Linked DNA regions of Homo sapiens: regions 2, 3, 4, 5, 6 and 7 are each linked to region 1. Evidence: fine-mapped expression QTL. A gene starts in region 1. Each other region holds a variant in brackets. All regions are shown on one strand. Distances are between the middles of the regions.

Evidence for each region. PIP is the estimated chance that this variant, and not a neighbour inherited with it, causes the effect.
Region 2: its variant is fine-mapped to the expression of TSPAN9 in cerebellum (GTEx, PIP above 0.99). The same link has a PIP of 0.9 or more in cerebellar hemisphere.
Region 3: its variant is fine-mapped to the expression of TSPAN9 in esophagus mucosa (GTEx, PIP above 0.99).
Region 4: its variant is fine-mapped to the expression of TSPAN9 in nasal epithelium (TOPMed, PIP 0.92).
Region 5: its variant is fine-mapped to the expression of TSPAN9 in tibial nerve (GTEx, PIP above 0.99).
Region 6: its variant is fine-mapped to the expression of TSPAN9 in lung (TOPMed, PIP above 0.99). The same link has a PIP of 0.9 or more in fibroblasts and whole blood.
Region 7: its variant is fine-mapped to the expression of TSPAN9 in whole blood (TOPMed, PIP above 0.99).

Annotation. Positions count from the first base shown.
Region 1 is chr12:3,075,252-3,079,620 of GRCh38, forward strand. It overlaps TSPAN9 (tetraspanin 9), which reads left to right and starts at 2,128. Exons shown (of 9, transcript NM_006675.5): 1 at 2,128-2,202. RefSeq lists silencers at 1,634-1,683, 1,734-2,233.
Region 2 is chr12:3,143,222-3,147,590 of GRCh38, forward strand. The region is part of intron 2 of TSPAN9 (tetraspanin 9); the gene reads left to right. Among named protein-coding and RNA genes, the nearest start is that of TSPAN9-IT1, 4.4 kb to the right of the region's middle. The variant G/T (reference allele first, on the strand shown) is at 2,573.
Region 3 is chr12:3,102,288-3,106,656 of GRCh38, forward strand. All of the region lies in intron 2 of TSPAN9 (tetraspanin 9), which reads left to right. Among named protein-coding and RNA genes, the nearest start is that of TSPAN9, 27 kb to the left of the region's middle. The variant C/T (reference allele first, on the strand shown) is at 1,732.
Region 4 is chr12:3,213,051-3,217,419 of GRCh38, forward strand. The region is part of intron 3 of TSPAN9 (tetraspanin 9); the gene reads left to right. Among named protein-coding and RNA genes, the nearest start is that of TSPAN9-IT1, 65 kb to the left of the region's middle. RefSeq lists an enhancer at 1,643-2,182. The variant A/G (reference allele first, on the strand shown) is at 2,049.
Region 5 is chr12:3,120,700-3,125,068 of GRCh38, forward strand. All of the region lies in intron 2 of TSPAN9 (tetraspanin 9), which reads left to right. Among named protein-coding and RNA genes, the nearest start is that of TSPAN9-IT1, 27 kb to the right of the region's middle. The variant G/T (reference allele first, on the strand shown) is at 2,282.
Region 6 is chr12:3,280,764-3,285,132 of GRCh38, forward strand. TSPAN9 (tetraspanin 9) reads left to right here. Exons shown (of 9, transcript NM_006675.5): 7 at 435-566; 8 at 971-1,054; 9 at 2,282-4,369. The coding sequence ends at 2,353. Among named protein-coding and RNA genes, the nearest start is that of LINC02827, 17 kb to the right of the region's middle. RefSeq lists enhancers at 3,463-3,963, 3,964-4,369. The variant A/G (reference allele first, on the strand shown) is at 2,422.
Region 7 is chr12:3,270,623-3,274,991 of GRCh38, forward strand. The region is part of intron 3 of TSPAN9 (tetraspanin 9); the gene reads left to right. Among named protein-coding and RNA genes, the nearest start is that of LINC02827, 28 kb to the right of the region's middle. The variant G/A (reference allele first, on the strand shown) is at 2,465.

The sequences.
Region 1 (4,369 bases):
CACCCGGCTAATTTTTGTATTTTTAGTGGAGACGGGGTTTCACCATGTTGGCCAGGCTGGTCTCAAACTCCTGATCTCAGGTAATCCACCCGCCTCGGCCTCCCTAAGTACTGGGATTACAGGTGTGAGCCACCATGCCCATCCCCATAATTGGTATTCTTATGCCCCATTCCACAGGTGAGAAAACAGGCCTGAAGAGGTCCCAGCCGATAAAAGCAGAGCCAGGATTCAGACAGGTGTGTCTGGCTCCCAAGCCCTGCGGCTACTCCCTCACCAGGCTGCGTCCAATGGTCTGCCAGTGAGTTGGCTTGCTGGCAGACAATCCTAGTATATCTCTTTCCCTGTCTGAGACCCAGTTTCCTTTTCTGGGTACATGTACCCAACTCTGCCGCAGTGACTGGAGAGATTGGGGCTGGTGGGGGTTCCTTGGGAAGACTTTGTTATAGGGGCATTGAACAGGGCTTTGGATGAAGCAAAATGTAGAAGGAGAATATTTTCCTTGTGGGGAAAGGGAGATCAGAAGGAAATGGGTTATGGGTTTAGTCTAATAGACAAAAACAAGGTTGCATGTGTGTGACGGAAAGGGGCCCAGAAGATGAGTGGAAACTTCCAGTCTAATTAGCAGAAAGCAAAAGTGACCCTAGTGATTATAGCCAGGTTTTAAAAACTTGTCCCCAGTCAAGCTTAGTGCAATGGTAGGGCACGTGGGAAGCACAGCATACAGTTTCTTTAAAATTTAAAAAAATTTCACTTTTAAAGACAGGGTCTCCCTCTACTGCCCAGGCTGGAGTACAGTGGCATGATCCTAGTTTACTGCAGCCTCCAACGCCTGAGCCTCAGCCTCCGGAGCAGCTGGGACTACAGGGGTGTGCCACCACACCCGGTTAATTAAAACATTTTTTTTTTGAGATGGGGTTTCCCTATGTTGCCCAGGCTGTTCTTGAATTCCTGAGTTCCTGAGCTCAAGCAATCCTTCCACCTGGGCCCCCCAAAGTCCTGGGATTACACGCGTGAGCCACCACACCTGGCCTAGAAGACATTTTTGATGACAGTAATGATGAGAAGAGATGGCGTTTTAGTGCTCTTTGGAAACAAGTTTAGGCCTTCTAGCTTTAAGAATCCGGGCCTATAATCCCAGCACTTTGGGAGGCAGAGGCAGGAGGATGGCTTGAGCCCGGGAGTTTGAGACCAGCTTGGGCCCAGGGAGACCACCGTCTGTACAAAAAAAATCAAAAACTTCGCCGGACGTGGTGGTGCGCGCCTACAGTCCCAACTACTCTGGAGGCTGAGGCGGGATCACTTGAGCCCGGGAAGTCGAGGCTGCAGTGAGCCGTGATCGCACCACTGCACTCCTGCCTGGGCAACAGAGTGAGTCCTTGTCTCAAGAAAAAACAAAACAAAACAAAAAGCAAAAAACACATAAAATCCAGGCCTGAAAAAGCGCCCGGGCCAGACATGCCTAGCTGGAGTTTCTCCTGCCTTAGCGCACCCCTCAGGCACACGGTGCCCTGTAGTCGCCCTTGGAGGCCGCCAGCTCCTGGGGAGGCATGGCCCTTTCTGCGGGAGGTGTCTCAGGCAGGCTCCAACACACACCCGCGCTGTCAGCATCTCGCACAGTCCGCCCGAAACACCAGGGAAGGGGTTCGTAGGTGTGGGGGTGGGGTGGCGAGGCCAGGCAGCCTGGCGCGAGGGAGAGAGCCGAGGCCTGGGCCAGGAAGGCCCTTGGGTGCCGTGTGGGCGCAGAGCCCAGGAGAGCGCACTGCCAGGCCCGGACCTCCCCGCCCCTACCCCGGGAAGAGGCCCGTTCGCCGCAGGGGGAAGGCGGGATCATAGCACCTCGGAGGAGCGGCCGGTCCGGGCATGCGGGCGGCGGGGCGGGGAGGGAGGCTTCCGGAACCCCGAGAGAGCACCCGTGCCTCGCGGGCCCCGTGCCCCGTCCCCGGGCTCCCCTTCCTCTAACGCAGGGGACCCAGCCCGGGGCAGTGCCGGGCACTGGCGCTGGCGCCCCGCTCAGCCCTGCGATCCTTCTCCGCCCCGCCCCTCCCCGCTCCGCCCCGCCCCTCCCCGCTCCGCCCCCGGGCCGCCCCGCCCCGCAGGCTCGCCATTCCCGGGCAGGCCCCGCCCCCTGTTTCCGCTGGCGGCGGCGGCGGCGGCGGTGCCGGAGCGCGAGCAGAGCGGAGACCCCCAGGTCCTGCGGGCGCGGTGAGTGCGGCCCGGGCGGCGGGCGGCGAGGCGGGTCTCGAGAGCGTGCGGAGTCGCGCGGCCTTGAGCCGGCGCCGGGCGGGCTGGGCACCCCCAGGCCGAGACCCGAGAAGGGGGAGCGGCCGGGGGCGCCCACGGGAGGCAGTGTGGGCAGGGCGGCGGTGGGACGAGAGGACGAGGAACAGAGTAGGCGCCGTGCGGGAAGCGGGCCGGGAAGGGGAGGGTGGGTGCGGGGCCCGGGCACCGAGCGAAGTGGGGTCCTCCAGGGGATGGCTCCGAGGAAGACCGTTTCAGAAAGGGAGTAACCCGGGGCCGGCAAGGGTTTCCGACTGTGTGACCCCGTGCACCGCTTGGGACAGTCCATACAAGGACCCCAGAGAGGGCCAGGGGGCCTTCGGGCAGGGCTGGGATATGGCCTGCAGCCCCCCGGCACCCGCGACCGCTCCCTGGGCCACTGCTGGAAGATCAGCACTCCGAGTGACAGGACTCTGGCACATCCCGAAGTTGGAGATCTAGCCCATCTGTGCATTCAAGTTTGGGACTTCAAAAAACTTTCTTGTGGTTTTTAAAAAAAGATCCAAACAAGAAACCGGCTTGTTGTTGTAAGAGCAATATTTGTACTTGTACATCTTGGAACTGGAGTCTTGGATCTCCTCCCTCTTTGAAAAATATACGAGTCACTGCTTCATCTTCCCCCAAATGCCTGTTTTGTCTGGGGAAGCTTGGGCTAGTATGGGATCCCCTGAGCTACCTTTTTCTCGCATCACCAAAACGGGGGGTAAGAAGGCAGGGGCTTACCTGCCTTACCTGGTAACTCTTAGTTCAGAGACCCAGTCTCTCATTATGTGCGCGTGCCCTTCTGACCTGCAGCTGTCCTTTTCCCTGGGGTGACTCAGGTATTTCCTCCTCCAGGAAGCTTTCCTGGACTAGTGGAGAAAACTGAAGACTCATGCGAGGATCCCTATATATACCTGCCAGCTCCCTTCTCTTTACTGAAAATAGCCACAGAGAATGTTGAATATATGCTTTGCTATAGAGATACGCAGCCAGCTTGCCATCATAAGTAATGGGGAGGGGAGGAGAGGGATTATGGATAATTTCAAACAATAGCCTGGACAAATCATTTATATTTAGCTAAGGAATGCAGCCAGAGAGGCAGACAATTACACCGGCTTCCTACCCTCGGCTTGGTCCTGGCATGGCTGATGCAGCTGGGCTGTGGGTTGGAGGGAGAGGATTGGGGTAGATAAAACTTGAAGTGTAATTCAGTTCTACTCTCACTCACTGAAGACGCCCTGTGTGCAAGTCCCTGAACAGGTGAGAGTAGGATTTTTTTTTTTTTGGTCTGGTTTAATCAGATTTTAATATTCTGGCAGAGCTTTTTAAACCTATGAACAGATATTTAATATTAATAACAATAACTAGTGTTGATAAAGTAATTTATAGTTGGCCAAGTTTTTTCTATGCACGTTACATTAGCTGTATATAATTTTATTTAATTCATACGTAATCTTGTGAAATTTGTTACTTTTTTTTTTTTTTTTGAGACAGAGTCTCACTCTGTTGCCCAGGCTGGAGTGCAGTGGCAGGATCTCAGCTCACTGCAACCCCCGCGTCCCAGGTTCAAGCCATTCTCCTGCCTCAGCCTCCCGAGTAGCTGGGATTACAGGCGCGTGCCGCCACGCCTTCTAATTTTTGTATTTTTAGTAGAGATGAGGTTTTGCCATGTTGACCAGGCTGGTCTTGAACTCCTGACCTCAAGTGATCCACCTGCCTTGGCCTCCCACAGTGCTGGGATTATAGGCGTGAGCCACCGCATTGGCTGAAGTTTGTTACTTTTAATTGCCTTCTTATAGGTTAAGAAAATGATACTCAGAGAGAATAAGTATCTTATCTAAGGTCACAACACTCATTAAGTGAAAGAAGCAAAACTTGAACCCTGGCTTCTGACCTTCCTGCCTTGTGCCATCTATTCTGCCATCTGCCTCTCTGCCCTTCTTCTATTTTATTTATTTATTTTTTTCTGAGACAGACTTTTGCTTTTGTTGCCCAGGCTGGAGTGCGATGGCACTATCTCGGCTCACTGCAACCTCTGCCTACTGGGTTCAAGTGATTCTCCTGCCTCAACCTCCCAAGTAACTGGGATTACAGGTGCCCGCCACCACAC
Region 2 (4,369 bases), 68 kb after region 1:
TGGCCCCTTTTTCTTTATAATTAATAATATTTATAGTTATATTAATCATAATTAATAATATTTATAATTATATTAATTATAATTAATACACCATTAATGTCTTGAGGGCAGGCACTTTGAAACTGTCCTGGTTTTTTCTCAAACCTTTGCTCACTAATTTTAGCATCCATCAGGGGTTTTTGCTTGCAGCTCTTATAATTGTGGTGTTTGCCTAATGGTAATTTTCTGTTTCCCTCATTTCTTCTGCATTTATTAATTGGAATTCTCCAAGAAGGAAGAGCTATTTCTTCTGTCCCACTTATTTATTCAATTAGTTATTTTTATCATTACAGACTCATGGATATTTATTTACTTCACAGATAAAAAGTATAAATGTATGGATATAGGATATATAATAAATATCAGGATATATATTTTATCCTATAGGTTAGAGTTACAGGAACAGCACAATAGATATTTATTTTGTTGTTCAACTTGCTGCAGCCTTGGCCATGGGAAGCTCTAGGGAGCACTTTCAGATGGGCTTCTGTGCCCTTTGGTGTATTCCTGTCTTTTCTGGAGCTCTTCCTTACTTTCTGGCACAAGATGCTCCGGGTCGTGTTATGTTTCTCCTGCCCCAGGCCTGAATCAATCACTTCTCTAAGGAGCTCTGCTTCTTTTTGCTGGAGCATGGTGTTTAGAAACCAAGATCTAGGTGCTAGGTGCGTTCATTGCTACTGGGGTGTCATTGCTTCTAGGTCCTCTCAGAGAATAGAACTAAGAAATAGATATATGTCAACCCAGGCATGGACACATATCTGTATCTCTGTTGTTCTGTTTATTTGTGTTTATATTTACAAAATCACGAGTGTGTGCTGATATATTTATTTATTTATTTATTTTTTATTTATTTTACTCTTTTGAGACAGTCTTGCTGTCACCCAGGCTGGAGTGCAGTGGTGCGATCTTGGCTCAGTGCAACCTCCACCTGCTAGGTTCAGGTGATTCTTCTGCCTCAGCCACCCTAGTAGCTGGGATTACAGGCACCTGCCACCACGCCCGGCTAATTTTTGTATTTTTAGTAGTGACAGGGTTTCACCATGTTGGCCAGGCTGGTCTTGAACTCTTGACCTCAAGTGATCTGTCTACCTTGGCCTCCCAAAGTGCTGGGGTTACAGGTGTGAGCCACTGTGCCTGGCCAGTGAGTGGTATCCCTATAAGAGGGACACAGGAAGCACCATGTGATGACAGAGACGGAGGCACAGGTTGGAGCAATGTTCCTGCCAAGGATTCCCAGCAATGACCAGAAGCTAGAAAGAGGCCAGGAAGGATCTTCCCCTAGAGGCTGCAGAGGGAGCCTCTGCCAATGCCTCCATTCTGCACTTCCAGCCCCCAGAACCGCGAGACCGTAAATCCCTACTGTTGAAGCCTCCCAGCTCGGGGTACTTTGCTGCAGTGGCTCCGGGAATCACATGGAGTGGTTTCTAGTGGGGGTTGCAGGTGCGGGCAGCTTCTGTCAGGCTCCTGCCTGAGATCATCCTCTCTCACATCTGGGTAGCCCTGGGCTGCGCCCTGAGAAGTGAACACAGAGGCTAGTGCTAGCATGTCAGCCATGGCCAGGTGCCCCTTCAGTGAGGCTTGTGTTTGGGCAAAATTAGAACCCAAAAAGCTTGCATTTAAACCATAGCTGCTGATGATATTTGTCCCTTTTCCCTATTCCCCCAGACCTTTATGTTACGAGGATAATCTGATCATCAAATTGTGTTTCTTAGCATTTAATTGGACTTCAAATCAGTTGCATTGCTTTGTTTCCTTGTGCAGAGAGCTCAAGGGCACCTCCTAGGAAATGTCCCTCCTTGATTTCACACATCAAGGTCATTCCTAGGGCTCCTTTTTCTTCCCCCCACTCCCTTGTGAGCACACAGTGCGTGCAGCAGCCCTCGGCGTCCTCTGGTGGATGACGCGTTTGTCAACTGCTTGGACCGTGAGGCCCTCCGGTCAGGACCGCGACTGCCCTTGCATTCACCTCTAGACTCTTGAGCACGTGCACAGCTCTCAGTGCCAGCTCAAGGCTCTCTCCCGTTGTGTCCTCCCTGACTGCCAGTCCATGGTGCTCTTGTTCTTCCTTGGCAGTGCTCTTGTTTGGGAAATGACCTTTTTGTGTGAACTTGTTTTGACGTGCCAGCTTGATGAAGAGCTCCTCCAGGGCCAGGGTCCTCCCGTCCCTAGGAGGTGTTCAGCTAGGGTTTGCTGTGGATTTCCTCCTTTTTGATACCCGTGGGCAGAGGAGCACCCACCTCAGTACATCTTGCTGAGTTTGGGGCAGAAGACTCAAGTGCATATGGGGAAACTGAGTCCCAGGTGAAGAGAAACTCACTCGTCACCCTGAATTCTAATAGCACATACACAGTGAGGGCAGAAGAACAGGGACCAGGTGTCCAGAGCTTCCCAGCAGTCCTCTCTGCCAGGATCATCCTGTCCTGCTCATTCCTCATTTTTCTGTCCAGATGGCTGGGGGAAGGCGTGGCTGGCATCCGCCAAGGTGATGCATGAACACATGGGGTTCAGAGCAGAGAGGGCTCAGACCATTTGG[G/T]GTGTCAGGCTGGGAAATCGGAAATGAAAGGCCTGGCGTGGTGGCCAGCAAAACCTCCTCCTGGTGCAGTGTTCCGAAATCACCTGTGGTGGGTTTCATTAGCATGGGCACAGGGGAGGGAAGGCCTCTTGGCAGGCAGAAGAGACAGATGGGCTGCAGGCACTGGCTTGGCCTTGCGAGCGAGCCACGGGGCACGCGGGGCCTGGCGGTGGCCTTCCACCACGAGGCTCCCGCAGGCACAGGCACGAGGACGCTTTCCCACTTTGAGGCTGTGAGCTCCCCCGGCAAGCCCACTCCCCTCCTGGACCTCAGTCTTGTCATCTGTAAAATGAGAAGATTGGGCCAGGCGATCTTTGAGGTCTCTCTGGCCCTGACAGCCTAGATTTATGACCCGTGGCCATCAGGGGAGTGGTGACTAGGTTTGTGGTCAATGGCAAAGGGGCAGGAGGGCGCTGGGATGCGAGGTCAGGGGATGGAGCCCGTTGGAGGAGGACAGCTTCCCCTGGGTGTCTCAAGGCCCTCGGGGAGCTTAGGGTGGGGAGACTGTGTGGAGATGGTGGTCTCTGAAAAGAGGGCTTTTCTTCCTCCATAGTCCCCTGACAGTTTGGTTTTCATTCTGCCCACCTGTCTGTCTACCCTCCGTCTCTCCTACCAGTATCTGTGGAGCACCTCCTGTGCAGGGAACACAGCTGTGCACGAGACAGACAAGGTCCTTGCTTTCATGGAATCCAAGATCCGATTGATGAAGACAGGCATTAGACAAACAGTTCACAAATAGTTAATTACACTTGGAATAAGTTTAAATGCCTCTGTGCGCTCTGCTCTTCCTCCTTGATCTTACTTTTCTGCTGCCTCCACTCTCCTCCTCTTTCCTGCCTCCTTATCTTTCTCCACCTGCTTTGTGTCTATGGCCTTTCTCCACCCACCCAGTGCTGAGATCTTCCTGGGATTCTGTGCTCTCTAGGCCAGCAATGCAAAAAGCTATAGATCTTGACCTTTCTGCTTGTGCGTCTGGACATTCTCTGGGAGGAGAATGGTGGTGGATCCCGTGGCCTCCTGAAAGGGGTGTGGGTAGATTGTAAGCTTTGGGGCCATGCTTTTTTGGGTTTGCATTCAGATTGTGACACTTACAAGCTTGCACAAGTCCCTTATCTTCTCTGAGCCTCAGTTTCCTCATCGGAAAATGGGTTTAACCACACTCACCTTTCAGTAGTATTTTGGACATCAAATGGGTAGATGTAAGTGAAAGTTCATTGTTGGTACCTTGATTTTAAGGTGTTTGATTAAAACTAGCATTCTCTCCCCTTTTCTCCTTACTTCCTTTCTGCAGGGTATGTAGTGAGATATTTTTGAGTTTAGGGTGGAGACTGGAAGCAGGGGAGCCCTGGCCCTCTGCAGGTCACGCTCCAGCCTGGAACCCAGGTGAGGTATGGAGGAGCTGCTGGGCAGCAGGAGGCAGGGACCACGGTCCCTGCCCTGGGATGAGGAGCCCGCCAGGGGCTGGAGAGAATGACAGGCGTCCCATGTATCCCAAAAATGCAGTGTGGTGTGACAGCTGCCTGCTGCATCCTGCTGAGTGTTGGGGCCCGGGAGACCCTCGCCGAGGAGCAAGGTTGGTGGTGGGCATGCTGCAGCCTGAGTCCTGGTGGCATCTCCACCGACGCGACGGGAAGTGGCCTCTCCCTCCTTCAGGATCGCCCCCACCTTCCCTGCCCACTTCCAGATTCAGTTTGAGCCACCTAGGGCCTGTTCTGCCCCCGAAGAGAGAGAACCAGCCAGCCCAGTGCTGCAACGATG
Region 3 (4,369 bases), 27 kb after region 1:
CAACATTTTTAAAATTTTTTTGTAGAGGCGGAGTCTTGCTATTTTGCCCAGGCTGGTCTCGAACTCCTGGCCTGAAGTGATCCTTTTGCCTTGGCTCCCAAAGTGCTGGGGTTACAGGTATAAGCTGCTTACCCTGGCCAAGGAGGAATTTTTTTTTTTTTTTTTTAGACAGAGTCTTGCTCTGTCACCTAGGCTGGAGTGCAGTGGCGCGATCTCAGCTCACTACAAGCTCCGCCTCCCACCAGGTTCATGCCATTCTCCTGCCTCAGCCTCCTGAGTAGCTGGGACTACAGGCGCCCGCCACCACGCCCGGCTAATTTTTTGTATTTTTAGTAGAGATGGGGTTTCACCATGTTAGCCAGGATGGTCTCGATCTCCTGACCTCGTGATCCGACCGCCTCGGCCTTCCAAAGTGCTGGGATTACAGGCGTGAGCCACTGCGCCTGGCCCCAGGGAGGAATGTTTTTTTGAGAGCTATTGCACAGCATGGTGACTACAGTAAATAATAACATGTTGCATATTTCAAAATTGGATCTGGAACAGAGGTCACTTAACCCATATTTGTGGACTGAATGAGTGAGCCCCAGAGAGGGACATCCCAGTGTCCAGGTGGCCAGGACAGTGTTCCACCCAACCTGCCCATCTTTTGAATGAGGAAGATGAACTCACGAGGTGAAGCCATGTGCTCCAGGCCACTTGCTGTTAGGTGGGAGAGCCTGTCTAGAAACCTACATGTTCTGCCTCCTAGTTTCCAGCTGGCTCCCTTGGGGGATGTCAAGACAGTAATAAAAACATGATATAATCCCAGTCAGCGTTGACCAAGTACATTCTGTCGTGATGTGCAGAGTTTTGTCCTACTTCTTAAAATGCACTCACTGAAAAGAGATTTCCTGAGCCTGTTCTCTATTCCCCTTGGCTGCCGTCACCAGTTCCTGCCTCAGAACACACTTGCCCTCAATGTGACTATGATGAAAATATATTCACTATTTTTGTCAGCCTCGTCCGCGGTAGCTGTTGTCTGCATGCTGTTTTAGGTCAACTAATATTTTACTGAGGATTCTTATGTTGGTTATCTTTCCATTCCTCACGTGCTTATCTGTATGGGATTTGCTCACTTATGCTTTAGCTGAACACTCATTGAACACTTCTGGTGTGCAGGCAGGCTCTAGGAACCAGGGACTCAGTGGTGAATCGGACTGGACGTGCCCACCTGGGGACCTCAAAGGTCCCTAAACTGGGACTGCAAGTTGGCCTGGGGGATGCTGCTGGGAGAAATCATTTTGGGGTCTTTGTCTCTGTAGGGCTCCCCACCATGCCATGCACGAACATGTATTCCTAGACACTGCTCCTGTTGTCTCTTGGCTGTGACTTTGGGAAGTGGCTGGGATGAGGCAGCCACCAGCCTCAAAGGACTAGCACCTGGAGAGTGGGAAAGTGGGCTTAGGGCTTGTGTTTCTGGTCCCAGCCTCTGCTTGGTTCACACTAAGTGTCCTCAGCCTCATCCCACAGATATTTGAAGGGCTCCTCTGGCCAAGCACTGCTCCCGGCTCTGGGGCTGCAGGAGTGAGGAAAAATCCCTGCCCTCAAGAGCTCATATGTTGGTGGAGGAGACAGACAATGAAAATTGGTGTATATCAGGAGGTGGCAAATGCTATGGAGGACAGTAAAGCAGGGCGGGACGGGAGGATGAGGCGGGGTCAGGGAGCCGTGAAGGCGTTACTGAGGAGCTGG[C/T]ATTTCAGGAGAGACTGGAAGACAGGGAGGGAGTGAACCTGTGAACATCTTGGGGTGGTGCCTCCTGGGGCAGCGGGAGTAGGAGGTGGGAGCACATGAGGCCTGTTCAAGGCTGGTACAGCTGGAGGGGAGTGAGCAAGGGGAAGGTCATGGGATTTGGATTATCTAGGCCATCTTAGGGGCTTTAGCTCTTATGGCAGAAGAGATGGGAGCCATGGAGGGCTTTGAGCAAAGGAGTGGGAGAGCTGGCATACATTTCAAAAGGATTGCTGTGGCTGCTCGGTAGAAAATCGGTAAGTGACAGTAGCAGTACTAATAACTGTTTTTTTTTTTTAATTGTTGTTGTTGTTTTGAGGTAGGGTCTCACTCTGTCACCCAGGCTGGAGTCCGGTGGCATGATCATGGCTCACTGAAGCCTCAACCTCCTGGGTTCAAGAGATCCTCCCACCTCAGCCTCCTGAGTAGCTGGGACTGTAAGCATGTACCACCACGCCTGGTTAATTTTTGCATTTTTTGTAGAAATGGGGGTCTTGCTATGTTGCCCAGGTTGGTTTCGAACTCCTGGGCTCAAGCATTCCTCCTGCCTCAGCCTCCCAAAGTGCTGGGATTACAGGCGTGAGCCACTGCGCCTGGCCTCTAATCACTGTTAGCTACCAAGTGCTTATCGTGTGCCTGGCTCGGTGCAGACTCTTTGTGGCACCTCATTTAATCCGCCCAGCAACTTTACTCCAATTTACTTAGCAAGAAGTTCAGAGAAAGTAAACATTTTGTCCGAGGATACAGAGCTAAAAGGTGGTGGAGCCAGCTGTCAGCTTAGGTCAGGCAGGTTCCAAAGGTTGTGCCCTGGACTCTTGTCCATATTTCCAGAGCAAAAGGGCCGGTCATTTAGGACAACAGTGGACAGGCGTGTGGGGGTGATGGGCAGGGGGACCCTGTTCCTGTTGTTTGGCTGCTCTCAGGCGTTCAGCTGGTCACCCTGGGAGAGGGGTGAGGGCAGGCCCTCTGCTTTAACTCACTTGTGTGGTAGGAGGAAAAGCAAATTGTTTCCAGATGAGGGGAGGCTGCCTGGGGAGTGGAATTTGTGCCCCGTCTGCGCACAGCAGCCTCTCTGGGCCTACAGGACCCTGTGTCTTTGTGTTCAGACAAGCCCTGCTGTGTAGAGGCCTGAGCTTTCTGCCGCCGACTTGGGCTCAGTGCCCCGAGGCAGGCAGATGGAGGAGTGCGGCAGATGTGCCGTCCTCTCCCAGGGGAGGGAAGCTCCTTCTGTTTCCGAGTGAAGTCTGGGCCAACATGCCCCGTATTTTACCTATCCCTTTCCTTCTAAGTAGTTCAGATCACTTTCAGAACGTCACTTCCATAATCCTTATATTTATTGCTCCCTGAGGAAGTAAGGAAGATATTTTTCCTTGTCTTAAAAAAAAAAAAAAAAGCTACAGGCTGGAAAAATTGGGGTCAGAGAGTAAGGCTGGGGTGGAGCAAGGGAGGGAACCCAGGAGCCTAGGCCTCTGTGCAGCTTGCCTTGAGAGGGGCAGGGAGGGAAGAGGCGAGCTGAGCGGGAAACAGGGGCTTCTGGATTTGGGGGTGCTTCCTTTTCTGTTAACCATGTGCTTTGGTGTCTGAATCCCGGTGGGGTGAGGGTCCCTGCCCTACCTAGTAGCTGTCTCAAGGAGTGTACATGCCCCTGGGGGCCTAGGGCCTGCTTTGTGTGCACGCGCGTGCACACACACACTCACACACACGCACACACGCGCACGCACACACGCTCATACACACTCACGCACACATGCGCACACACGCACACGCGCACACACACTTTCATACACACGCTCACACACGTTCACACACACACGCTCACACACACATGCACACATGGTCACGGGCACTCATGTTCTCAGGTGTGCTTGGTCCCATCCACACTCATCACCGCCTCCCTTACCCTCACGTGCTCATTCGTATGTGCAGCGCACACTCAGTCTTGCACACACACACTCATATACCCCCTTACCCCTCACCCACTCCATCCTCACCCCATGTGCACCTACACATAGCATGCACACTCGCTCTTGTGCGCGCACGCACACACACACATGCCTGCCCATGCTGTGGCTCTCACACACACGTGCGTGATTGGTTAGTTCGCCTGTGCATATACCCACCTATGCCCACAGGGAGGTGTTTGGGGGACACATGTCAGAGACGGGCACCAACAGCTGGCAGCTGACTTGGCATGGGAGTTTCTGACAGTGGTGGAGTCCCACAATAATGGCTTTTAGCTTACCACATCCTGTGCCTCAGTTTACCCCTCTTGTATAATAGAGAGAGCTTGGAGAGACTGAGGACACAGGAGACACAGGTGGTTGAGTGTTCTGAGATCTGCAGACTGGGAGGCATTATGCCTGTAAAATGTAAAGTTAACAAAGGCAGAAACTGGTGGTGGGAAGTGGAGGAGGTCCTTAAAAAGAAAGATGGGACTGGGCCTGGTGGCTCACGCCTGTAATCCCAGCGCTTGGGGAGGCTGAGACAGAAGGATCACTTGAGCCCAGAAATTTGAGTTCACCCTCAGCAACATAATGAGAACCCTGTCTCTGCAAAAAATAAAAAAATTGGCCACACGGGGTGGCATGTGCCTGTAGTCACA
Region 4 (4,369 bases), 140 kb after region 1:
ACAGATCTGTGGAGCGCTAGGAATTGCTTGGGTACAGCGGTGTGCTGGTTGCAGAAGACCCCTTTTAGCAATGGCACTTTGGATCATGCGGGGAAGGGCATTAAAGAACGCCAGGTGGAGGAAGGTCTGGAGGACATGGGACTGTGGCTGGGCGGGCAACCTGGGGAGTCTGTCTGCAGGGGTCTCTAAGCAAACGGCAGTTGCTGGCGGTGAGGATCCTGTGCCTTCTGTTCTCTGTACAGTGAGGGCGGGTGTGTTCTGAAGCCTCACTCTGCCCCCTGCCCTCTCAAGGGGGGCTTCCCCCGCTTGTTGGCAAGAGCTCATTGGACCCAAATCAGAGCGACAGCTTGTCAGGCCGATAAGCCTGGGCTCTGGGCAGGAGCTCTTTATGTCTGAGCCATTTAGGACACTCATCGTGACCAGTCCCTGGGGCTCAGAGGCCTGGTTGGGGAGGAGGTTCAGGGACCCTCAGGAGAGAGCAAGGGTGGAGGGAGGAATGCTGATGTGGTACTGAGTGCACGAGGTGCTCACTTTGTTCCCATTTATGGCAGCTAAAGAGAGCTGCAGCGAAGCCCCCCTCCCCCTTCCAGCCCCCCTTCACCTGTCCCTTTCTCAGCCTGCCTGCTGGGAGGAGGGGAGTCTGAAAAGTGCATATTTCACAAAAGCCACTCCGTAGAGGGCTGTGGGTCTTACTCAGGAGCTGTGGGAGGAATATTGACAAGATTCTCTGCATTGCCGATTAGCTTTCTGTCTTCCCACCTAAATGGAGACTTCTCACAACTTGGGGCAGGGAGGGGCTGGGCTGGGTGGCCACCCAAACAGCCTGCGGGATCCTGGGGTGCCTGGCCATGCATCCTGCATTTCCTCCCCACTCCTACAAATGCAGGTGTGCAGCTCTTCTTGGAAGATGCATGCCAGTTAACTCTCGCTTGTATCTGGGATCAAAGTGGCAGAGTGGAAAAGAGCAGGGAGTTGATCCCAGAGACCTGGGTTCTAGTCCCCGGCATGCTTGCTAACTAGCCGTGTGATCCTGGGCAAACTGCTTCTGTCTCTGGGCCTCAGTTTCCACATCTGGAAAATGATAGACTTGGACCAGCTCATCTCTGAGGTCTCTCTGGGCCCTGACATTCTGTGGTTGTATATGTTTCTTTTGTTCCCTTTGTCTTTTTTAAGGAGCTGATGATTATTGAGATATTTTATCTTCCTTATCCTCATAGTAGCGTCGGTAGAGTGATGGACCACGGATGAGTTTCTTCTGTCTCATAGGTGGTGACACTGAAAGGGGACTGCCTCACCTGGACTACGTGTGTGCTCAGTGTGCTGGAACTCACTGCCTGGACAAAGCTGCCCTAGATTTTGCCATTCCTGGAGCTCACAGGCCTGGAGTGAGCGGCTGCCTGCCGCGGGGCTGGGTCGGGACAGGAGCGCTGGGTTCCAGGGTGGACGAACTCCTGTTGGATTTGCCTCTTCGGACCTCCAGTTCCTTGCTTAGTGGTGGGGGGAGAATCTTCCCTGTTAGCCCATTTCCCACTTCAGGGTAGCAAGAAATGGAAGTCGTTTCTGGGCCTGGGCAGGAGATGGGGCCACAGCCACAGCAGTCAGTTGATTTGAACACGCCCTCCCCCCTGCAGGGGAGGGCCTTCACGCCCTCTAAGCAGGTAATGAGGGGGCGGGCTGCCGTATTAAGCACCCTGGCTACGCTGGGGAGAAGCTCTGCACCTTGTTTGACACACAGAACTGTCGCGGCTCCTTCCTATTGTTAGAAGCCTTAATTACTATTGTTCCAATTCCTCCCTCCAGCGATCGTCATTAGGAAGAGCGTTCTTGTTTCTTCCTCCTTCCCCCCATCCCCCTGAACACGTCTTCAGGGCTGTTCCCTGGCGCTGCCTGCCTCTCACCCGGCTCTACCCTGTTCACTGTGCCCTTCTACCCAGGGCAGCCCCTGACAGCCCACCTCCCTTATCCCCTGGCCCTGGCCTGCGCTCCCACCTGCTACCTCTTTAGGAAACAAACACATACCCTTCCCACCCCCATCCCCAAGTCTCCCC[A/G]TTAAAACTCATGGCTCAAAGCCAGGGATGCTTTACCTTGTGTGTGGATTCAAGAACCTGTCCTACCCGCTTCTCTGGTGGTTGTGAGAATCCAAACCAAGAGAAGGGTGGTGCCTTAAACTGGAAAGTACTGCACACATTTAGGGGGTGTCCGTGCACCAGCGCCGCAGGCCATAGCTGGCTGGGGGAAGGCTTGGGCTACCCTGCTGCTCTGCCATTGACTCCCTGGGAGGATCTTTGACTTCAGCTTCTCCTCGGTAAGGTGGGAATCAAATCTTAATCAAACTTGCCTGGCCAACCTGGGAGCCTTGTCAGTGGGCTGCAATGGGATGGTGATCCTGAAAGTACTCTGAGGCCTAGGAAGGGTTCTGCTGATTGGAATCAGGATCGCCAGCTTATTTTTCTTTTCATGACTTCCTGTTGTTCTCTGTATCTATTTCCATCCCATCTCTCAGCCTTCCTAGAGGGCCCTAAAGCTGTGCAATGATTTGTTCCCTGGGGAATTTCTCCACCAGGCAGCCCCAAGTCATGTTGCTGGCTCCTGCAGTTGCCTGCTGAGGCACCCCAGCGTCTGACACCTGGGGAACCCCACTTGTGGGCTGTCTGGGAAGTGTGGGGGTGGGAGGGGCCCCTCATTTCCCTCCAGCTGCCATTTGCTGCTCTCTCCAGGCTCCGTGGTGGGCCCGGCACAGCCTGTATCGGAGTGGAGAACGTAGGTTGGTCCAGAGCACGTTCCACCGGGACCTCTCCGTCTGGAGCCTGTATCAGAGTGGAGAACGTAGGTTGGTCCAGAGCACGTTCCACCGGGACCTCTCTGTCTGGCTTGCTCAGGCTCATTTCTTCTGTCTGGGGACTTACGGGGATGAGCATGAAAACCTGTGCATCCTGGAATCACAGGGACACGGCTCCATGTTCCCAGCGGTTGATCCATTATCCCTGGTCGCCCTGCTTCCTTCTCAGTCGCTCTGGCCTCTGCTCCCTCCTGGAGTCCTGGGCTGGGAAGTAACCTCAGTCCATGCTCAGAGCCACCCCATCCCCACCCCACCCCCACCCCAGCCCTGGGGCCCTCTGGGAGCTGGGGAGTCTGTGCTGTGATTGGCAGGAGTTGGACAGATTTGCTTGCTTGGGCTATCTGCCTGTGGGGCTCTCAGCTGGATCATCCTGCGACTACTGACTAAGCAGCCAGATGGCTTTTGCTGGGACCTTCCAGATGTGGGAGTAGGTTTTGGAGGTGCTCATTCGTGCCCACATGGCCCTGGGTCCACATCTCTTTTGCTCCCCCGAGATGTCCAAGCTCACACTGGGCACTCGCTGGTCAGAGTGGTTGGGGTTCTGGAGGCGGGGCTTGGGAGGATATGGGGAGCTTCTCCAGCATCAAGCCTCCCTTTTACCAGGATTTTCGTACCGTCTCAAAGCACCCAAAGCTCTTCTCAAACACATCTCGTCAGTGGGGAGGCTTATACAGAGAGGGAGATGGGGTGCCTGGTGTCCAGGTCCCACTGGGCACAGGGCCTGCAGGGCTGAGGTGGAACCCACTGGAACCCGGAGTGGCCCTAATGGGCCTGGAAGCCCGTTTGTCACAGGTGTGGTCCGGAGGTGGTTCTGGCTTCCAGATTCAGCCATGTGGATCCCCTAAGGGGTCACCTGCTGCCTTTCTCTGCTTCCCAAAAACGTCCACGTGGGCTTTTTTCTCTGCAGGCACCCTAGGGAGGTGGAACCTCCTTGGCCAAGGCCCTCATCTCTAGCCTTCAGACACAGATCCCCAAGGCCCCTGCTTTGGAGGGCTCTGAGGGCTCCCTGGGTCCTGGTGAAGGTCCAGGCCAGGCCACCACCCCAAGGGCCCACTGTCCTGGGGGAAGCTGAGCCTCCTGAGTAGGCCCCTGAACTGCAGTTGGAGGAAGGGCTGGAGAGGAGATGAGAAGTGGCAGACTGGCTGAGAGACTGCTCAGAGGGCAGCCTGTTGCCCGGCTGTTTAATTTACTGGAGTTATTTTTCCTCATCGTTCCCTTTCTTTGGTGTTCCCAGGCTGCTATTCGTGGCTCTTTCCCTGCTGAGCTCTCTTCACGTCACTGTATTTAGGAGATAACTGAGGAGCTGAGCCTTCCACCTGCCCCTGGGCCTCATGCCCGGACCTTGGATGCCAGGGGCTGAGGTGTAGCATCCTGGGGTCCCTGATGGCAATGTCCCCTGAGTTGGCTGGGGTTGGGCTTAGATCTTGCACTCTACGTGACCGGCAAGGGAGGTGGTCAGAGACACCCTCAGCTTCTCTGACATCTGTCTAGCTATGGAAGTGTCATCTGGAAAGATCCTGCCCAGTGTTG
Region 5 (4,369 bases), 45 kb after region 1:
AGTGTAAACTGGACTGTGGGGCTGGGAGGGCTAGGGGAGCATTGCCGCTGATCAGTCAGTCAGTTAATGTTGACCAAGCCCCCATCACCTGCCCGAGGTGAGGCCGAGCTCTTCCAGTGAATGAAAAAGATGTACACACAGCACTTCCCTTGGGGGAGCTACCCATAATGGGGTAGACCAGCCCCCAGGAGGGACCCTTACGGAGTGGTGGGTGATAAACTGCTTCTGTAAGTCAGAGAGGCGGCTTGGGCCTTCAGAACTCAGGTGGGAGTCAGTAGGCCTGGGTCCAGCCTGCCACTGGCCACTGGCTCCTTTGCAGGTTGTGGCTCAGTCACAGGACCTGTCTGAGTTTCATCTTGTGGAATGAGAAGGTTGGGGTGGGTCTTCCTGAAGTCCCTTCCAACTCTGCATAGTTAATAGTCACCATTTATCAAGTGCTTTCTGTGTGTCAGGCGGTGTGAAATGCTTGACAGACCTAATCCCATCTCATTCTCCCAGAGCGAGGCTCTTTTATTTGCCCTCATTTTGCAGATCTCAGGCTTAGAGCTGAGGTTGCAATCCAGTGGCCTCTAGGTCTGATCCAGGCCACAGATGCGTTTTGTTTGGGCGCAGCTGACATACTGGAGAGATTTTTCAAAACAGGGGATGTTGGCTTTTTTTTTTTTTTTTTTTTTTTTTGAGACAGGTTCTTGCTCTGTTGCCCAGGCCAGAGTGCAGTGGTGTGATCACAGCTCATTACAGCCTCGACCTCCCAAACTCAAGTGATCCTCCCACCTCAGCCTCCTGAGTAGCTGGGACCACAGGCACATGCCACCATATCTGGCTAATTAAAACTTTTTTTTTTTTTTTTTTTTTTTTTGTAGAGACAAGGCCTCACTATGTTTTCCAGGCTGGTCTCAAACTCCTGAGCTCAAGTGATCCTCCTGCCTTGGCCTCCCAAAGTGCTAGGGTTATAGATATGAGCCACTGCACCTGGCTGATGTTGGCTTTTTAAAGTTGGAAGGTCTAGTTACACTGAGCCTGTGCTGCCCGGTGGCAACAATTGGCTGGATCTGGCTCTCAGGCACCACCTCCACATGGGGCTGTGCTTTCCTGACCCCTCAGTCTTGACACAGTACTGGGACTTGCCCTTGTACACAGTAACTTCATGAATTTATGTTTTCCACCTTGTAGGTACTTGAGTTTGCAAACCTTGACTGAAGGCTGTGATGTTATACTGTATCAGTCACACAGCTACTGTTAGGGACAGTGTTCCAGCTTGAGTCTGTCTGACTTTAAACTGTGAACCATCCTGCTGTTTTTCTGAGTTCTCCCCTCCCCTCCCCTCGTTTTTTGTCTTAAAAAGAGATAGAGTTGGCCGGGCGCGTGGCTCACGCCTGTAATCCCAGCACTTTGGGAGGCCGAGGCAGGCAGATCACGAGGTCAGGAGATCGAGACCATCCTAGCTAACACAGTGAAACCCCATTTCTACTAAAAATACAAAAATTAGCCGGGTGTGGTGGTGGGTGCCTGTAGTCCTAGCTACTCAGGAGGCTGAGGCAGGAGAATGGCGTGAACCCGGGAGGTGGAGCTTGCAGTGAGCCTGCACTCCAGCCTGGGCGACAGAGTGAGACTCTATCTCAAAAAAAAAAAGGAGATAGAGTCTTGCTCTGTCACCCAGGCTGGTGTGCAGTAGCACAATCATAGCTCACTGCAGCGTTGATCGGCTGAGTAGCTAGGACTTCAGGCACACACCACCATGCTTGGCAAATTAAAATTTTTTTTGTTTGTATGTTGTCCAGGCTGGTCTCAAACTGGTCTCCTTCTGTCTTGGCCTCCTAAAGTGCTGGGATTACAGGTGTGAGATACCACACCTGGCCCTGAGTTATTTCTAAATCCTAGCAGGGATTTTGAATCTTTTGTCTGAGCCTAGGAGACCATAGATAAGGAAGTTGGCAAGAACCCCTCTTAACAGAGAGGTTTGAGTCCCCGCATCTGTCTGAATGTGCTCCTGCAGGGAGGTGGCGTCCACTTTTGGATGTTGCTCATGTTTTAGTCCAGAGAAAAACTGTCCTCTTGCTACACAGTATGTCCTTTCTGAATTAATTAAATGTCATTGTTTTTTCTCTACCACTTGTTTTCCTACACCTTGGTTTCTATTTACTGGCAGGTTGAAAGCAGGTGACCCCGCCTCCTTGCCCCTAGGAGGGCTGCCAAAATGCCAAACAGAGAGCTTGCGTTTTGCCCCAGGCACTTGGAGGCAGGAAACAGGGATGTCTGTTTGGACAGTGGATGCTTCAGG[G/T]TTGGTCAGGGGTCCCTGGGGGAGAGGCAGGCAGGATGCTAGGCCTCCCAAACAGGGAGGCGGCCCCACAGGGAGCCCTGGTGGAGCTTGAGGCTTCCTGCATTTAGTGTTGGTCTGTCCAGCTGTTTCCTCCTGATAGAGTGGCTGGACAATGCCACAGTGACTCAACTCCAGCCCCGTCGACGAACAACAGGAGATTTGTCCAGGGTTAGCTCGGGAGTGGCGTCTGCATCCCTCACCTGCATCCAAGCTGCTAGTTGGGAGGAACCTGTTGCTCCTTGAACCGCTTCCCTGCTTACTCTTGGTGCCCTAGAGCCCTGTCCCAGTTGGATTGATTCAGGCTGTTTCTTTTTGATTTCCCTGTAGCTTGTCCTTAACCCTTCTTTGTGCACAGCTGACCTAGAGCTTCTGTGGCTCTGTGCTGACCAGCTGCCCGCCTGCCGTCCCAAGCCTGGCATTGCCAGACCTCCCTTGCCCTTGGCCTGAGGCTCAGTGGGTTTGGCACAGTCCCCGAAGGTTCTGAGTCTCTCTCCAGGCATTCAGGGCCTGGGCGAGCTTCAGATGAGAGAGACAGCTGTATGATTCATTAATCTCCTCCAGTGTGTGGAGGATTAAACAATTTTTTGGTGGGTTTATTATTATGTATTTTTTTTTTTTGGGAAAAATTATTACTTATTGAGTATTTTCTAAGGCTCCTGTCATGGTTACTAAGAGCTTTGCATGCATTACCTACCTTAATCCTTGCAGGCACTCTCTGGGAGAGGGATGGTTACTCCCATTTTACAGATGAGTCTGAAGTCCAAGAGGCTAGGGAGCTTGCCCAAGGTCTCAGATCCTTCCCACTTCGTATCCTGTGACACATGAGTTAGGGAGGGATGAGGATGTGCGGAAGAGTTTAAAAAATAGTTTGAGAACTGTTGATGAAGGATGAGAGGTTTAAAAGGAGCTGTGCAGGGAGGAGGCAGAGGTGAGCCGGGCTTGGTCCTTGCACTCCTGGAGTGCGGGAAGCAGGCAGGCCACCAGCTGCCTCTGATGTAAGATACAATGTGGTTGGTGCTAGCAGTGGAGCTGCCAGGGTAGTTTGGAAGCACATTTTCAGCTGGTATATGAGCAACTAGTAGAAGACACTTCAAAACAGAAGTGAGAAATTCCTGGCGCACAGAACGGATTTATCTGTCAGCATGACTTAAACTGTCCATGTAGAAAATACTGAGATATAGTCCCATTTATGTCTAGAGTTGCAAAAATGCAACATTGCTTAGAATTATTTTTAGTGCAATTATTTGGAAGTTTATATCAAAGGCCTTAGAAACATTCATTCATAATTCTGTTCTTTGGAGTTTATACCAAAGTAGTTATATTTTTTCATTGCAGCACTATTTATAGTAGCTAAAAATTGGAAGCATACTGAATGTCTAACAATAGAAAATTAGTTATATAAATTTTGATACATTCTTTTTTTTTTTTGGATGGAGTTTTGCTCTTGTTGCCCAGGCTGGAGTGCAATGGCTTGATCTCGTGGGTTCAAGCAATTCTCCTGCCTCAGCCTCCTGAGTAGCTGGGATTACAGGCATGCACAACCAACACGCGTGGCTAATTTTGGATTTTTAGTAGAGACAGGGTTTCTCTATGTTGATCAGGCTTATCTTGAACTCCCAACCTCAGGTGATCCGCCTGCCTCGACCTCCCAAAGTGCTGGGATTACAGGTGTGAGCCACCGCGCCCAGCCTGATGGACCACTGTGTGGGCTTTTAAAAATTATGTCTTCAAGAATTATATATAATGACTCAAAATAGGCCAGGTGTGGTGGCTCACATCTGTAATCCCAGCATTTTGGGAGGCTGAGGCAGGAGGATCGCTTGAGCCCAGGAGTTCGAGACCAGCCTAGGCAACATAGTGAGACCCCTGTCTCTACAAAAAAATTTTTAATAAATTAGTCAGGTATAGGGGTGTGCCTCTGTGGTTCCAGCTACTCAGGAGGCTGAGGTGGGAGGATTACTCAAGCCTGGGAGGTGGAGGCTGCAGTGAGCTATGATCATGCCATTGTGCTTTAGCCTGGGTGACAGAGTGAGACCCTGTCTCTGAAAA
Region 6 (4,369 bases), 210 kb after region 1:
TCCATGATGGGGCTTGGCTTAGGTGAGGAGGCCCTGGCTCTAGGAGGAGAACAAGTCCATAGTCCCAGATGCTCCCATTTTAAGCCCTGGGGAGGGGCCGGCAGGGGGTTGGGTGGCAGTCAGCTTGGGACGGTTTACAGAAAGAGCAGAGGTGCTGGTGGGCAAGCACAGGGCTGAGCCAAGGGGCCCAGCCCGAGGGGTGGGCTGCATTGCCCTCTCCCGCTCTGGTCTCCAGGAAGGAGTGCTCACTCACTTCTCCAGTGGGCCCGGCTGAAGCCCAAAGAAGGGACAAGAAGCAAGCCCTTTGTCTCCTCCCTTAACTGCAGGGTGGCCACTTTTGCGGGGACTGGGGTTGGCCTGGGCAGGGGAAGGCCCTGGGGAGGAAGGGGCGGGCCATGGCATGTCTGACTGCCCCTTCCATTCCTGCTGGCCAGATGCGATGCTGTGGTGTCACTGACTACACAGACTGGTACCCAGTGCTGGGGGAGAACACGGTTCCCGACCGCTGCTGCATGGAGAACTCCCAGGGCTGCGGGCGCAACGCCACCACGCCTTTGTGGAGAACGGTGAGGCTGGGGATGGACCGCTTGGGTCCAAGAGCCCGTGTGTGGATGCCCCGGCACGGGGAGCCCTATAGGGGAGGCTGGGCCCGGGACACTAAGAGGTTGGCTGAATGTGGCGGTGGGGGGCTCACAAAAATAAAGCCAAAAGACAGGTGGAAAATGGGGGGTGGGGCTGGACCCACAGTTGGGAGAGTCAGAGGGCGAGGGGTTGAATGGGGTCTGAGGCTCTGCAGCTGGCCTTGCGGGTGGGGCGGAGGCTGCGCCAAGGGATGGGGACAGGGCTGAGGCCAGGGAGGGCTGGGAGGTAAGAGCGAGGACGAGGTGGAAGGAGAGAGTGAGCTGGGGGCTGGGCTGCAGGGAGCGCATGCTTGGGCTGGGACCCTAACCTCGTGGGCCTCGCTCCCCAGGGCTGCTATGAAAAGGTGAAGATGTGGTTCGATGACAATAAGCACGTGCTGGGCACGGTGGGGATGTGCATCCTCATCATGCAGGTAAGAGGGGCGTCCCCAGCAGCCTCACCCACCCTGCTGGCCTCAGCCTCAGAGGGAAGGAAGCACAGAGAAGTGAAAGCAGTGTTGGTACACGGCGGAGGGTCTGGAATTCATCACAGCTATTCAAGCTTAGCAGCTGTGCCTGCCACCGTTTCCGCAGAGCTCTGATATGAGAGCACGTGTCTACTCAGCACTGAGAGTGGTGCTCAGGGCTGCCTGTGGCCAGGCCCAGGCTGGGATATTGAAGCTGGAGTCAACCCCCGTGGGTTCCCCCAGTTCTGCCCAAACCTTGAGCTCAGAGAGCCATGCAAGACACACACGGTGTCCCCCGGTCACCATCTTTACAGCCTGTGCACATGGCACACTCTCTGTGGTGACCGTGAGACCACACCGGGCTTCCTTCTGCCTCCTGCACTCCTCTGGGTCCCCGGCTCCTTTGAGGATTCAGGAGGGAAGGGGCACAAACGAGTAGTGACGTGGTCCTGAGCACACATCACTGGAAAGACAGCCCTGCTGCTGCCAAGACATCGCACCATGTGTTCCACAAGCAGACAAGAGAGGCTTGACAGGAGTCCTTTATTTTTCTTTTTTTAAGAGACAGGGTCTCACTTTGTTGCTCAGGCTGGAGTGCGGTGGCGCCGTCATAGCTCGCTGCAGCCACAAACTCCTGGGCTCAAGCCATCGTCCCACTTCAGCCTCTCAAGTAGCTGGGACTACAGGCATATACACCACCATACCTGAATGATTTACAACTTTTTTCCAAAAACAGATGGAGTCTCCCTCTATTGCCCAGGCCGATCTCAAGCCATCCTCCCACCTTGGCCTCCTAAAGTGCCACCGTGCCCGGCTGGCCTGAGTCCTGAATGATCCCTGCCACCTCCCACTCCCCACCTTGGCTCCTGTGAGCCCCCACGTAGAGCCAGGTCCTCCGTGCATTCCGTGCCTGCAGCGCCCCTCTGAGTAGGCACACGTATGCATCCTGCAGAGGTTCGATGGCTTCTGGTCTAACAGCCCCACGAGGCTGAGCCAGAGTTCACCTGTGTGTGTCTCCAGGGTGACCTCTGTTCACGGTTTTCTTCATGTCTTCATTCCATAAGCATTTTCCTGGCACACCAGTGGCCATCCCCGCTTGCTCTAGGTGCCCTGTGACATCCCAAGCCTCTCGGGGCTGAGGTCAGGTCCAGGCTGCTGCAGCTCCTGCCTCAGGCCCCTCCCCGTGTCTTTCAGATCCTGGGCATGGCCTTCTCCATGACCCTCTTCCAGCACATCCACCGGACTGGTAAGAAGTACGACGCATGAGCGGGCTGGCCGGGAGTGCCCACCCCGCCCTGCTGCCCTGTGGAGGGAAGAGGATTGAGCTTTGTGTC[A/G]CCTGCCTGCGCTCTCCAGATATGACCCCTGCACCCACCCCCCACAGCCTGCCCTACCCCACCTACCCTGCCTCAGCCTCGGACTTCTCAGTGGGTGGAGTGCCAGGGAGGAGGAGGCACACGGAGACCTGGGGCTCGGGGCCCCTGGATTCCTGCATCTGCATATGCGTATTTGCCAAAGACGACAGGGTGGGCTGGGGTGCGCTCCGGAGGAACCCCCGGCACTGATGGGCTTCTGCCCCTGCCCTTCCTCACACTGACACTTTGTCCCCACATGGGGTGGGGAGCAGAGTGCCCGCCCCGTGGAGATACCGCCCCAGCGGGGGCTGCGACATCCATGGCCACCATGGGGCACCTGGCGGGGCGGGGGTCTGCCGGCCTCTGGGCAAGGCCCCTGGAGCATCTCGCCCAGGCTTTTTATACCTTACAATGTAACTTTTTTATTTTATTTTACTCTATGATTATTCAGGAATATTATCTCTCAGATAAGTTTAGGGTTAGATTTCTGATTTGTAACTTTTTACTGTGTTGATTTCTTTAATGGTTTGACTTTTTTTCCCTGAGGGTGAGGGATGGGTGGGAAGAGAGGACATCTGTCCAGTCTCAATCAGGACAGACCACCGTGCGACACCCAGGAGGCTCTCGGATGGGGCGCGCCTGCGCCCTCAGAACGTGTGGGAAGGAGGGGGCGTGGACAGGACACGGGACCTTGCCAGGCCTGGTGTCTGAGGACAGGAGCCTGGGAGAGGCGGGTGGAGCGTGAAGCAGGCTGGAGGTGCCCCTGCACGGGAGGTGGCGTTTGCTAACCAATCGAGCTGGAAATGCCAGGGCAGGGGGGCCCCACGGTGCTGTGGCAGAGCTAGAGGGGTCCTTAGACTTTTCACTGATGAGCAGTTGTTGGTTTTTTCTTTCTCCCTTCCTCCCGCTCTCTGCTGGCACGCGAGGCTTCCCCTTCCACCCCATGTGGGTATTCCCACAACAGGTTCTGCACACCCCAGTTATTTCACAGACATTCCTGCTAGAAACTGTCAGACAAATACCTCTCTAGTTCGGATGCTGCTCACTTTCCCCCTTGCTTCTGGAAGGGGAAGCAGTCCTTAGGTTTTGCTGTGCTGGGACAGTGGCAGGGGACCCACAGGGGTGAGGACCCACGGTCCTCCCCGCCAGCCTTGCTCAGCTGTGGGTTGCCCTGCTGGGAAGGAGGGAATCACGTCCACCTGGGTCCCAAGATCTTCGCCTCCTTCCCTGGGGCCACGGACATCAGCAGTGGGTTGGGTGGCGATTATATCATCTGTGATCCCAAGGAGAAGAAATACAGAAAACCCAAGAGAGGTCAGACTGGCTCTTGTTACCGGAGCCACGGGAAGAAAGCAGCCGGAGTCACGCACGTGCAGAGCTGGGCATGGGAGAGAAACGGGCTGGGGAGTGAGGCCAGGAGTGGGATTCAGCTGCAGCAGGGCGCCCCCTCCAAACTGCAGCTGGTCTGGCTTACTGTTTTGCCGTTCAAAAAGGTCGCGAATCCGTGGGACTGAGCACGGGGACCTCACCCGCTAGCCAGCGTCTGCTGCACTTGATCAGGTGGGGCCTTGGTGGGCGGCTGCCTTTCCTATACAGTTTGTCTTGTCACCCTGGTTTCCCACTGGGGCCAGGTCTCTTCTCCAGCCTCCACCTGCCTGTCTGATCCAAGAGCTGAGACACGGCCACCCAGCACCAGTCACTCCTCTGTTCACCTTAAGTAACACACAAATCGGGAACAGGAGGACAGAACCGTTGGCATTATCAGGATTCGTGTTTTGTGGGGGTGGGAGTGGAGAGTAGGGTGGTCTTGTGAGTTGTGCAGGGTGAAGACCGCTTCCCTGAGACAGGGGCAGTGGTGCTGATGGAATGTGGGGGAGGCCCACATTTGAGCAAAGCTGCCCTGCCCTTGTCCCCTGGCCTGGCTTCCTGG
Region 7 (4,369 bases), 200 kb after region 1:
TCCCAGCTAGGGGCCAGAGGACACCAAGCCCTTTGTGGAGCTGGGGGCCAGGACTGCTGGTGACTGGGCATTTATCCCACCACGCAGGGCCCTGACACCCCTGGAGGGGGGTAGGGGCTGTCCCCAAAGTCTCGGATAGAATCTCCTTCATCGTGGACTCTTCCACCCCAATATACACTTCGGGATTTTAGATTGCAAGAGGTGTAGGTATTGTAACAGGACTCACTCTCAACTGCTAGGGGTTTTGGTCAATTGGGGAAGGGTTACAAAGTTGGCTGGAGAGAATTGACAGTCTTGAAACATAATTCAGGAGCTTTATAACTGCAGAGGCTTGCAGCCCCCAAACACGATGCCCCTTAAGTTTGGCCGTGGGTAGACATTCTCTCTTAGAACTGTCTCACATGGAGAATAACCCCATTCTGGTATAATCAAAATGTAACTGGGTTGTAGATATGCAAATGCTTTATGTAATGTTTATTTGGAGGAAAATTAGGCACAAAAATATGGGTGTCATCTCCCTGACACCTTTGTAAGTTGGTGAGATTAGGGGCTGCAAAGTGAAGGTATGAAGGTGAATTGGAGGCTTTGAGAGAAAGTGTGGGGTCCAACAGTAATGACCAAGGAATCATGCCATCTGGCTTGAAGTTATGCACCAGCTCAGTGTGAGACTAAACTGTGCTATGGCTGCCACTCAAGCCAATGGGGCCTTAGGCTGAATTACTAGAAGTATAGAGCTCAGAACGTAGGAGGGGAAGAGCTGGGTCCTACCATAGCTGGAGCCTAACTTTCAGTTTGAGACAGGCCTGTTTTACTTGTTCTTAGTGGGCTTCTTGGGCAAAACTAGGATTGATGCATGTTAGCCACAGGGAAGTAGATTCTTGCATTAATAAGAAAGAATTCCTGGCTGATTAGAGGTATGCAGAAAAAAAAAAAAAAAGAAGAATGGAGTGCATTGTGGGATGGTGAGCATTCAGCCCCTGGGAGACCCGTGTGGCTGCATCCCACCCCATGGTTCCAAGGTGCTGTGGTCCTCCTACCTGCTGGGTGACTTCAGCAAAGATGTGTCTGTGACTTTGTCCCTTCATTTCTCTCCATGCAGAATTGGAGGCATCGTCTGCTCTCTTGCCTTCCCTGCCCCTCCTGCCTCTCCCTTTATGGCTGTGAGAATGAATGAGCTGCGGGGGCCCTTGGAGGCAAGGGGTGTCTGAAATACAAAGCAGCGGCTGCGCTCCTGGCACCGATGTATTGTCTCTGCTCCCCATGATGAAGTTCTTGGCAGGTCGGCTTCTTCCAGAGCCAGGCAGGTTCATTACTAGCCAGCATGTCAGGCTGTGAAATTAAAGCTGTTTTGGTTTTTTTCTTTTTTAAAAATTCTCCACATCCACTAATTTATTAAATGCCATTAAATGTTGGGCCTGGCCTTGGCTCATAGAAACATTAGGGAGCACTCAGTCCTAGCATTTGAAAATTTCCTGCAAGCAAAAAGTGGATGAGGGTGTCAGGGGGGCCAGGTCAGGGGCCACCAGTGACATCTGATGCCAGAAGCCCAGGTGCCTTGTGGGGCTCTGCAGACACATGAGGCAGTGGGGATTAAAATAGGGCAGCAGAGGTGGGAGCAACCTGAGGGCACTGGGGGTTCCAGGAGTGGGGAAGACGGGGTGAAGAGGAGGCTGCTTTTTCAGGAGGATTTGCATGTCTGGGTCTGGTCCTGTTCCCCAGCTATGGCCCACTCAGGCCCCTCCATCCATCCCCATCATTCATTCATTTATTCATTCCTCCAGCAAATATTTATCTAGTAATCCAGGCATGTTCTGGGCCCTACAATGGAAGAAAAATGGATAAGACACAAACCTGGGTCCTGGAAGTGCATGTGTGTTTTTTTTTTTTTTCCCCAAAGTGCTGGGATTACAGGCATGAGCCACTGCGCCCGGCCGTGTGTGTGTGTTTAGTGAGGGTAGGCAGCAAGTCTACACAGAAGCCTGAGAGGTCCTAGGTGTGTCCTCTGCTGTGGGCCCGGCGCTGGCAGAGGAGTCATCCCTGGCGAGGGGCCGCTCCCACCAGTGGGAGACCGATGGGACCCATGAGATATGGGCAGTGGCTGCCCCTAGGATCTAAGCAGCATGGAAGTGGGTGGAGAAGCTCAGGACGGGGAAGCCCGAAGGGGGAATTGTGTCCCTCACCCCCAGAGAAATAGGATGCCTGCGTGAAACATACGTAACGACACGTGGCAGAAGCCTGTATTTAAACCACAGTCAGCATGGTTCAAACTGAAGACAAGGAAGACACCGTGGGGATATTAGCTAACTACAAGACTTAACAAATGAGGTGAGGCTGGAGTGTGGGCTCACTGTATGGCCATAGCCTGACTGGGCCTCAGTTTACCTGCTGCGCGTATTGTGGATGGGCCCCTGGTGACAAAGAAGATCCTGATACAGCCTGATGACTTGAGGCTTTTCTCTGTGCT[G/A]GGGGCCTGCACCCTTTCCCTCCTCCGGAGTCAGGGCACGGCCCAGACCAGATCGCCCTGTGGGATTTGAAGGCGTTGCCAGCCCTGCTCTAGGCTCTGCGGATTTAACCACAAAAACAACAGACCCAAATCCTGGCCCTCAAGGAGGCCATTGGCAAATGTAAGGATGGGATTCGTCTTCTCAAATTTGGATGTGGATTTGTTTGTAGCCCTGATTTGAAGTTATTTTGAAATGCCTTCGGCTGGGGAAGGGGCAGGGGAGGCTTGGTACTCAGGCTGGCCCCTGGACCTGCACCTGCTCCGGGGAGGGCATCAATCAGGCCTGGACCACACCAGGAGTGGCTGGTGACCTTCTGCGGGTTGGTGCTAGCATTGCCTGGGGCCCAATCCCCTGAGTCACCCTGCCTCACCCCAGATTGTCCCATCGTGGGCTAGATTATAGCTCAGTCATCTCAGCTGAGACAAACCCCTGGTTTTGGAAGGGAATTTTCCCAAATGCCACCAGCTAAGCTCTCCGGCCCTGAGCTTTGGCTGTGCCACCACAGACAGGCCTTGCCTCCTTCCTGTGCTATGTGCTGGGCTCCCTCCACCAGAGGCGGCTCCCCTGCCCTGCACCTCCCTCTCCTGCTCCTGCCGCACCCTCTCCCTGCCCGCTGCACTGGCTTCAGAGGTCAGCTTCCTGACTTCCTGCCCTCCTGCCTGTGCGGGGCAGGCCTGGCTCACCAAGACTTCATGGCCAACCTGTCTCTGCCATCACCTCCTCCCTCCTGCCCTTGCTCCCTCCCCGATCTCAGCCCCGGCTGTCCCCAGCTCACCAGCTGGCATCTTTGGGCATATCGCTGTCATTGGCTCTCCCTTCCCCACCGCTGGAGGGAACACATCAGATTCTTTCTCCAATGGCTGTTCTCAAGATGTTGGCAGCCCAAGGGTGGGTGCCTGGCGTGGGGGGATAGGGTAGGGGGCGGGGTTTCTCAAACTCTATTGACAATTGGGGCCAGACAGTTCTTGACTGTGTGGACTGTCCTGTGCACTGCGGGGTGTTTGGCAGCACCCCTGGCCTCTACTCACCAGGTGCCAGGAGCAGCCCCTCCCATTGTGGCAACCAAAAACGTCCCCAGACATGCCACATGTTCCCTGGGGAGCAGAATTGCTCCTGATTGGGAACCACTGGGCTGAGGGCTGAGAGCACCATGTCTCAGACTCGGCTAAGACTGCGCCAGAGGGACCTAAGAAATGATCTCGTCCAAATCCCAAGTTTTAAAGGAAATTGGGCCTCCGAGAGCTAAAGAATCTTAAGGTCACACTAGGGAGCAGCATGATGAGAGGCATTTTAGGAAAAGAATCAGGCAGCTCTATGCAGGCTGGGCTGGAAACTAGAGGCCAGGGGCAGGGAGGGCAGTGGGGGCCGTGATCTGGACATGGGACCTGTGGCGAAGGCCCAGTGTTGGTGCCTGTCACCTGTCAGTCGGAGGTCCCCTGGGAGCAGGTAGTGAAGGCTTCTGCACCAAATGCCAGAAACCAAGGTTTTGTCCCAGCCCAGCAGTGTGACTGGGGACTTCCTTGTCCCCCCGCTTAGCTTCCTGGAAAATCGAGGCGTGACCTTTGTGTTTTCTTCTTGCCGGGAGGCTCTGTTAGTGTTGGGCCATCAGAAGATGGGAGCAGAGAGCTCATCTCGGCAGGAGCCCCTTGAGGATGGGAGCGTGGCAGTGGGGATGTGCGTGGCACCCGCTGTACTGCACAGGCCTCCTCACTGGGCAGACGTGCACCATGCGTGGAGTTGTGCCAGGCGGGAGCTGTGATGGAGGCAGGAACAGGTTTGAGGGCTTGGAGAGGAAGCCTTCCAGTCCAGACTGCGCCCCCGTAGGGTAGGCCGCAGATCTTTCCTGGGGGCCTGGAGGACTTTGG